Regions from separate parts of the Homo sapiens genome. Here region 2 is linked to region 1. The links come from fine-mapping of genetic effects on gene expression. A gene starts in region 1. The other region holds a variant in brackets. All regions are shown on one strand. Distances are from middle to middle. Region 1 holds the start of PPP1R3C (protein phosphatase 1 regulatory subunit 3C). Region 2 overlaps HECTD2-AS1 (HECTD2 antisense RNA 1).

Region 1 (4,275 bases):
TGGCTACGTTGGCTTATTTTGCTGCTAAATTGATTGACACTTCTCTGGTAAGGTAATTCACTTGAAAAAAAAAAAATAACATGCAACAGTTTTGAGAGTGAGAAGGCTAGAGAAGAAGTCAAAGAATCATCTTTGCACTTTGATTATCATGCTCTTATTTTTCACAAATAACCACTGAAATACAAGCCAACAATTCATATGCACTTAAAAACTATATAATTGATAATTCACCTAAAGAGATGCCCATGACAAGTCCACATTTAAGTGGAAAAACTGATTACCTGAAAGTTGGAGTGTTTTAAAATATACATTTTATATATACAAACTTATAAATATTGAAAAACTCTATAGGAAATACACCTTTCCTAATAATTTAATAATTATTATTTCTGGGTGATAGGATTATAGATTATCTATTTTCGTTTTTGTTCTTTTTTGGCATTTTCTAATAGACATTTATAAGTAGAAAGACAATAAAACCATTTAAAGTTTTAAACATGACTATGCTCAGCAATATTAAACCAAGAAGCATCTATAAAGAAGACTTTTCTCTGACCTTTAGCCCTCATCATATATTTCCAAGCTTATGGTATTAAGATTTTTTTCCCTATCTTAGCCTTACAAGTAAGAGGTGTGTGTATACTGTACACGACATTTCTCAGTCTGGCTTTAGTAACTCTCCTCACAGCAGCTCTAAACATGTATGCAAGTGGTCATTATCACAAAAGTGTGTAATAACACTCGCAGAATTTACTGTGTTAGCTCTGGGGTTTTTCTGGGAGATCTGCAAACTTAGAACAAACAAATGAAAGCTAAAGCTATATTTGTGGGTCTAATAATAGTTAATAGGCAGGATTTTTAGAGAAGTCTTCTGCTAAGCTATGTCTGGAGAAGCTATTTAAAGTAGTTTTATGGGAGGTTTTTTTTGGTTTTTTTGTTTTTTTTTTTTTACTTTTTGCATTTATAGAAAGACAGTTTTAGTTTGGGTGATTTCCTTGGAACTTTAAGTCCTGGACAAGAGTTAAAAGTAATCGTTTGCTCAAACTCTTGAGATTTTGCTATGGCAAACTGTGATAAGAAGGACGAATGAATGCAAACGTCGTCCTGTAATTTTTTTCCTCCAAGCTAAACCACCTAACCAGCAATGTCAGAGTGCTGTTCTCACCACTTCAGCTGCCCGAGTCTTTGGGACATTTGTGCAGGACCAAAAGAACAGCCGCATCCATGAGAAAATCCTAACTCAAGCTGATTCACGTTAAGATAATTTCTGCTTTAAGATGCTGATTACTAAAATAGGCTCTGCTTAAGAAATAGAGCCAAATTTCTACACCTCCAAGGCCTCTCGGTTGCCAGATTCAACTACGCAGTCAGTCCACTTGTCCTCCCCCTGGGGTGTCCATTTCCAGAGATGATAGAACTGAAACGCCCCCCAACTTCCCCACAGCTGCGCGTTCCCCTGTGTTCCTAGCGCGCAGAGTTGCAGCGAACCTACCTGGTGCAGCTCATTAGGCAGAGAGGCGGCGGACCCTAAAAGCCAGCACCCGCTGCCTGCACAAATTCGAACCACAGCTCCAGGCCTTGCCCCCGCGGCGGTCGCTGGGAGAGACTGAGGGCCCGGCGCCTAGAGGCCGCTTATCTGCTCCCAAGCACGTGACCCGATCCCTGGGACCAATCGCCGGGCCTCGAGCCCCAGGGCGCGACCAACCAGCGCCCAGCTGGGGCGCCAGCCCTCGCCCCGGCAACGTGATCGCCCCGGGGCGAGACGTGCAGAGAGCTATCTGGGCATCGCGGGGAGGTTCTGGGACTCCGCGGCCAGCTGGAACCAGCCGCGTAACGGGAACCCTGGGCTAGGGGCCGGGCAGGCACGTACCGCATGCAGCGGGCGCCGGCCAAGAGAGAGCGCAGCCAGCCTCGCCCAGGCGGGGCGCCAGTGCCTCAGGCTTGGGGCGGCTGTTACTTGGGAATAGCTTTGTGGGTCACTGCGGGTGAATCTGCACACAGAAGATGTGGCTCAAACCGAATGTGTATCGCATTTGAAATGTTTATATCGTTCATTACCCGGTGTATCCGCATTTCTCCCTCACCTTAGCCTGCGCGATCCCAAACTGGCTGCATGCTTTTCGATTAGTATGAGTTCACAGATGCACCACACAGTAGACAGCTGCCGGGAATTACCAACTTATCTAACAAATGTTGTTAGGAAAGCATACGAGCCCCATAAAACACCAAGGTGGCATTTAATTAAAAGACACTTCGTATTTCTGTCTATTCTTCAATTTTCTCCCCTGCGGGGAACACTAAAGCCGGAAGTGAAATGACCCTTTTCACACATACAGCCGGTCAAGAGGCAGCAGTCAACCCAAACCCCTTACTCAATTCTGACGTCCTTTGGCAGTGGTGTGGAAATCAAAATGTTAAAATAAAATTTAAAAAATCACGCCGTATGTTTCATGGGCCTTCTGAGCCACTCACTTTCGCTGAAGTTTCATTATTTTGATTAGTTTGAAGAATTTTTAGACCATCATTTACAACTGTAAAATTAAATGTCTAAGTCAAGTCTAAATTATTTTTATAAAACCCACATCCTAGTTTTGCTCCCCTAATTGAGCTATCCATTAGTCAATTAAAATATACAAAAATTCCTATGTCTTTTAAACAACTGTCAAACAGTGGAATTGTTAAAATTATTAGAGTGAAGAAAAAAATCACACTGAATATCACTGGGAAAGGGACTTCATGCCTGGGTTTTATTTTTGAAATGAAATATCTAACTAATGGCAGGTCTTCTAGCCCCTTTAGCTCAACCAAAACTAGCTGGAAGGTCTTTGGATTGACACTTACTAGCTACACGAATCTAGGCAAGTTCTAACCTCAGTTTCCTCATGTGTAAAACAGAGATAGTAACGTTCTGAAGATGAAGTAAGATGGTGCCAATGAACAGACTCAGCACGATGCCCAGTGCCTGTGTTCCACCCGGGCTAGTTCCCAAGTTTCTACTTGATCTCTCAGCTAGAGTTTTTACTCTATCACCTCAAGGCGCCTGGTGCCTGAGCTAAAATATTGAGAATAGCTGCTGCTTGTTGAGCCTTTACTCTGTGCCAAACACTATGTGCTATCAATTCAATCCTCACAACAACCCTATGTGATATGTCCAATTATTAATCCCATTTTAGAGAAAAGAAAACGGAGACACTGAATGGTCAGGAAATCTGCCCAGTGGATCACTTGAGGCCAGGAGTTCAAGACCAGCCTGGCCAACATGGTGAAACCCTATCTCTACTAAAAATACAAAAATTAGCCGGGCATGGTGGTGCACACCTGTACTCTCAGCTACTCTGGAGGCTGAGGCAGGAGAATCGCTTGAACCCGGGAGGCGGAGGTTGCAGTGAGCTGAGATTGCACCACTGCACTCCAGCCTGGGCAACAGAGCGAGACTCTATCTCGAAAACAAAAAACAAAAAAAAAACCTGCCCAGGTTCTCACAGGTAGAGCAGGGATTAGAGCCTGGCTGATACCAGAGCAATAACCGCTGCACCATATTGTCTTATTTTAATGACCCATCAATGGTTAGAATTATGGAGGTAGGAGGTGATAGGCATCAAACTCTTTATTTCACAGATGAGGAACTGAAAGCTTAGACAGGTCAAGCTGCTTGCCAGGGGCTGGCTAGGTCTGAGCCAAAACTAGAACCCTGGGTATTCTTTTCCTCTACCCATGATTATATGTTGAGCTAAATAGTAAATATTACCAGTTAAAACTATGGAGAAACATGAATAACAATTTATGGTGATCGCATTTTGAGGGAAAGGTATCCATGCATAGAAAACAGAATGTGCTCTACAGAAATGTGAACAGTTCATTTTGGAATGGTGAGATTATGAGTGATTAAAAATGTCTTCGTTGTTTTGCTGCTCTGTTGTTTTTCTTAATTTTTCTACAATGAACATACACGACCTAATTAAGAAATAATTTTTCAAGGGCGTTAAAACTCTGGGATTCAACTAACACATATAGCGTACTGCTAGGTGCCAAGAACCGTGGTGGAAATTTTCACATGCTTGTGCCATTTACTCACACCACCCTTTCAGCCTGTTCCATTCATACAGCTTTCTCTCCTGCCCCCTGGTGTTGACTAATGCCATAGAAGTCACTCTCCCTTTCAGCTCCTTCAAATGGAAGATTCAGGGAGACCATGCTTTCTCCTAAAAGGACTCAACACTCACTCAATAAACCTCTAAATTGGATGATCCAGGCTTTTCACTTCTGTCTCCTTCC
Region 2 (4,275 bases), 25 kb before region 1:
CCAGCCATCCCATTACTGGGTATATACCCAAAGGACTATAAATCATGCTGCTATAAAGACACATGCACACCTATGTTTATTGCACCACTATTCACTATAGCAAAGACTTGGAACCAACCCAAATGTCCAACAATAATAGACTGGATTAAGAAAATGTGGCACATATACACCATGGAATACAATGCAGCCATAAAAAATGATGAGTTCATGTCCTTTGTAGGGACATGGATGAAATTGGAAATCATCATTCTCAGTAAACTATTGCAAGAACAAAAAACCAAACACCGCATATTCTCACTCATAGGTGGGAATTGAACAATGAGAACACATGGACACAGGAAGGGGAACATCACACTCTGGGGACTGTTGTGGGGTGGGGAGAGGGGGGAGGGATAGCATTAGGAGATATACCTAATGCTAAATGACGAGTTAATGGGTGCAGCACACCAGCATGGCACATGTATACATATGTAACTAACCTGCACATTGTGCACATGTACCCTAAAACTTAAAGTATAATAATAATAAAATAAAATAAAAAAGAGATAAGCACATCAAGATGGCAATAATAAATGCAAATTCTTCATCACCATTTTGACTGCTCAGAAATCATCACTGTTTCACAGGCTCTTTAAAAAAAGGTCAGTAAATACACGACTCCTGTCTAATGAAAAGAAAGTTAGCAATTGAAATTCTGAGAATACAATCTCCCACAAAAAATCAAAACCCACTCACTGAGCCAAACAAAAAGCATGCTCACTGACCTCCAATTCTTGGCCATCACTGCCAACTACAAAAGAAATAATTAGAAACAAACAGCCACAGACGCTATACTCTTGAGTTGAAGAGGAAACATCAAGAGCGCATTGCATCCAGTACTGTCATACAAGTCATTCACATAAGCAGAAAGCCACTTTCCAGTCCCTAGATAACTATGGCCAAGCTAGCCCAGCCAAGAACCTCTTCTCATTCTGTACTAGAAGGCCACAAAAGCAGCTCACTCAGAGGGGCTGGGCTGCCTTGCTCCTCTTAATCCAGTCAGGCTCACTGGCCATCCTCAGTCCAGGTTTTTATCTCTTCTCACTTGAGCTACTACAATGACTCCCCCAACTGACCTCTCTGTCTCCCTGAGTCATCCGGCCACTTTTTAATCCTCTGCTCACATTGCATTGCATCCAGAGAAAGACAAATTTCAGTCTGTCTCCCTTTTACCTAAATTTTAAAAAGACTACTTTCCTCAACCTCCATCATTTGGCTACATTCATCCTCATCACAGCCCCAGACTGTGGCCAACCACATTTCTCTCTGCTTTCCCACCACACCATAGTCATTGCCACCTCCTGCCTTTTTTCGTGCTCTGTGGCTTCCAGAAACACCGTCTTTTCCTCTGTGTCTGTCCAAACTCCACCCATCCTTCATATTGCCACTTAAGAAGCTGTTCCCAGACACCCTATCCCTTAAGGGTGCTCCTTTCATTCAACTCCTTACAGCTCCCAATATTTTAAGCACTCCTTTTATTTTCCACTGTCCTGGGCATAGGCCCTGGCCCTGGAGTAGAGCAGGAATCTGACCCAAAACTTCTTTGGGGTCTCCTACTTAATATCTATCCCTCTAAATCCTAATATGTTCTATGAACACAACTGCCCTTGTACATGATGACCCTAAGAACAGCAAAGTTTATATTTGGAGAAACTGCAGACCTCTCCCAGAATGACACATTGCCCTTCAAATCTCACGGAGAAAGAGCGTGTGGGCCAAGTGCCCAGATATCTAGCAAAGAAAGGCAAGTCAGCCTCCTCCCTTCCCCCAACCCGCCACTCTTGCCAGACAGCATTTAAAATGCACTTCAGCGCGTTCCTCTTTTATTTGGAAAGGA[A/G]ACAAGTCTTGACATTCTGTTTCTCCCATTTCATTAAGGACAGAGGTCATCCCAGGAAGGGGAAGGGTAGTTTCCAAAGAGAACTTGTGAGGGAGTGGAGGTGGGGCAGGGGACGCTCTCGTCCCTTCTCGTTAGCCCACTTTACCCTTTGAAGAGAACAAGCCCAGCTTTCACAGTGAATTATTTGCAGGGTGGCTTCTGCCAGGACTGGGCTCTCGCTAGCTGAGGCAATACCCGGAAGGATTACATGATAGCTCAAGGACAGACAAGGTGTCCAGAAGGAACTGGCCGGAGGAGGTGACACTGAGACAGCCTGGAGATAAGGGGGTAGAAAAGGGAGAAGGGAGGAGGTAGGGGGTGTGTGTTAAATAGAAACTCAGAAAAAGCTAAACCTGTACATTTCTCTCTCTCTCTCTCTCTCTCTGTCTCTCTGTCTCTCTCTCTCTCTCTCTCTCTCACACACACACACACACACACACACACACACACACAGGCATGCACAGAAACACATTCTTTGCTTTCCCTCCCCATCTGTAACTCCCCAAGGCATTTCTATAAATAAACGATAGGCCCCTGAGCCTGCAATAGGACCATTATTAACTCTTGCAGTGTTCTGGCTATAAGTGTGTGAACACTTTTCCTCACTTCATGGTTTGCAAAGCCTTTTCCCATATGTAATCTCCACCTGACTCCTACATCACACACTTGAAAAGTCCTTTAGCTTCTCCTCATCATTCCCATATATAGAATTGGGCACCCCACACCCACACTCTCAAAGTTCTTAGCCTTAAAGCTGTAAGTTTCAAGTTGGCTACTCCAAAAATTTCTTATGGTTTGAGCCACATTATCTATTTTCAAAATTATCAAATATTGTACATATTTATGGGGTACAATGTGATATTTCGATATATGTATACATTGTAGAATGATCAAATCAAGCTAATTTAACAGGCTCATCAACTCACATACTTACGATTTCTTTGTGATGAGAACATTTAAAATCTATCTTTTAGCAATTTTGAAATATGCAATATATTATTATTAACTATAGCCACCATGCTGTGCAACAGATCCCCAGAACTGACTCCTCCTGTCTAAAAATGAAACTTCGTACACCTTGACCAACATTTCCCCATTCCCTATCTGCCCCCACCTATCAGCCTCTTATAACTACCATTCTACTCTCTACTTCCATGAGTTTGAAGTTTTTAGATTTCACATTCTAAGTGAGATCACATAGGATCTATCTTTCTGTGCCTGGCTTATTTCACTTAGCATGATGTCCTCCAGGTTAATTCATGTTGTCATCACAAATAACAGAATTTTCTTCTATCTTAAGGATGAATAGTATTTTGTTGTGTATATATACTAAAATTTTTATCCATTCATCTATTGATGGTCACTTAGGTTATTTCCATATCTTGGGTATTGTGAATAATGCTGCAATTCACATGGGAGTGCAGATATCTCTTCAACGTATTGATTTCAATTCATTTGGATGTACACCCAGAAGTGGGATTGCTGGATCATATGGTAGTTCTATTTTCCATTTTTTCGGGAACCATCATACCGCTTTCCAAAATGGCTGTACTAATTTACATTCTCACCAACAGTGTACAAGAGTTCCCTTTAATCCAGAGGCCTTTACATGCATAATGTCACTTAAATTCCACAAGAATCCTGAAGGGTAAACATGATCAAGGCATGTCAGAGGAGGAAAGTGAAGCTCTAATGTTACGTTATGTGACAGGAGTGTAGAGTATGGGGTGCAGTGTCTTGAACCCAGGTCTGTATAGCTATAGTGCACGTGTTCTTCACTCCTGCCCTGAGGTCCTCTTCCTAAAAGTTCTTTATCATCTAAGATTCCAGAGCATCTACCGGGGGGTTTAGTCAGACATCTGGAATGCCAGGATTCATAACCAATTAAGCTTCCCCATGCCTATAGTGGTGTCTTTTACTTTTCACTTCAACATTTATTTTGCCAGACTCCATACTAGGTAAAGTGGGTAAAGCAGTCAATAAGACACACATGTCCTGCTCTCATAGAACTTAAAGTCTGATTAAAAGAGACGATTCATAAATGCACACACAATTAAATAAATGGACCAATTTGCCAAGAAGCTTCAAATCCACAGAGAATAAACACAATGTAGTTTTCATTTTTTTCCACTATCCTTGACTTGCTATGTCAAATCATCTCCTCCTCTTTCCCCCCCTTTAAAATATCTCACAGTTTCCATTACTTCCTGTCACTTTCAGCTATTCAGTTTAGTCAAGACCAGTTTAAACCTCCATCTCAGATCTGATCCCAAGCCCTCTGCCCTCCCAGAGTAGCCAAGACTTGCTGCCACTGGGGCTTGGCATAGATCCAGGTGGGTCTGCTCTGTCTCTGTTCTCAC

What was found. PIP is the estimated chance that this variant, and not a neighbour inherited with it, causes the effect. A credible set is the group of variants that fine-mapping cannot tell apart.
Region 2: its variant is the best candidate, but not a certain one, in a credible set for the expression of PPP1R3C in lung (TOPMed, PIP 0.89).

Annotation. Positions count from the first base shown.
Region 1 is chr10:91,631,464-91,635,738 of GRCh38, forward strand. It overlaps PPP1R3C (protein phosphatase 1 regulatory subunit 3C), which reads right to left and starts at 1,608. Exons shown (of 2, transcript NM_005398.7): 1 at 1,493-1,608. The coding sequence starts at 1,506. RefSeq lists enhancers at 1,239-1,740, 1,741-2,240 and a silencer at 1,575-1,714.
Region 2 is chr10:91,606,871-91,611,145 of GRCh38, forward strand. The region is part of intron 1 of HECTD2-AS1 (HECTD2 antisense RNA 1); the gene reads right to left. Among named protein-coding and RNA genes, the nearest start is that of HECTD2-AS1, 2.5 kb to the right of the region's middle. The variant A/G (reference allele first, on the strand shown) is at 1,877.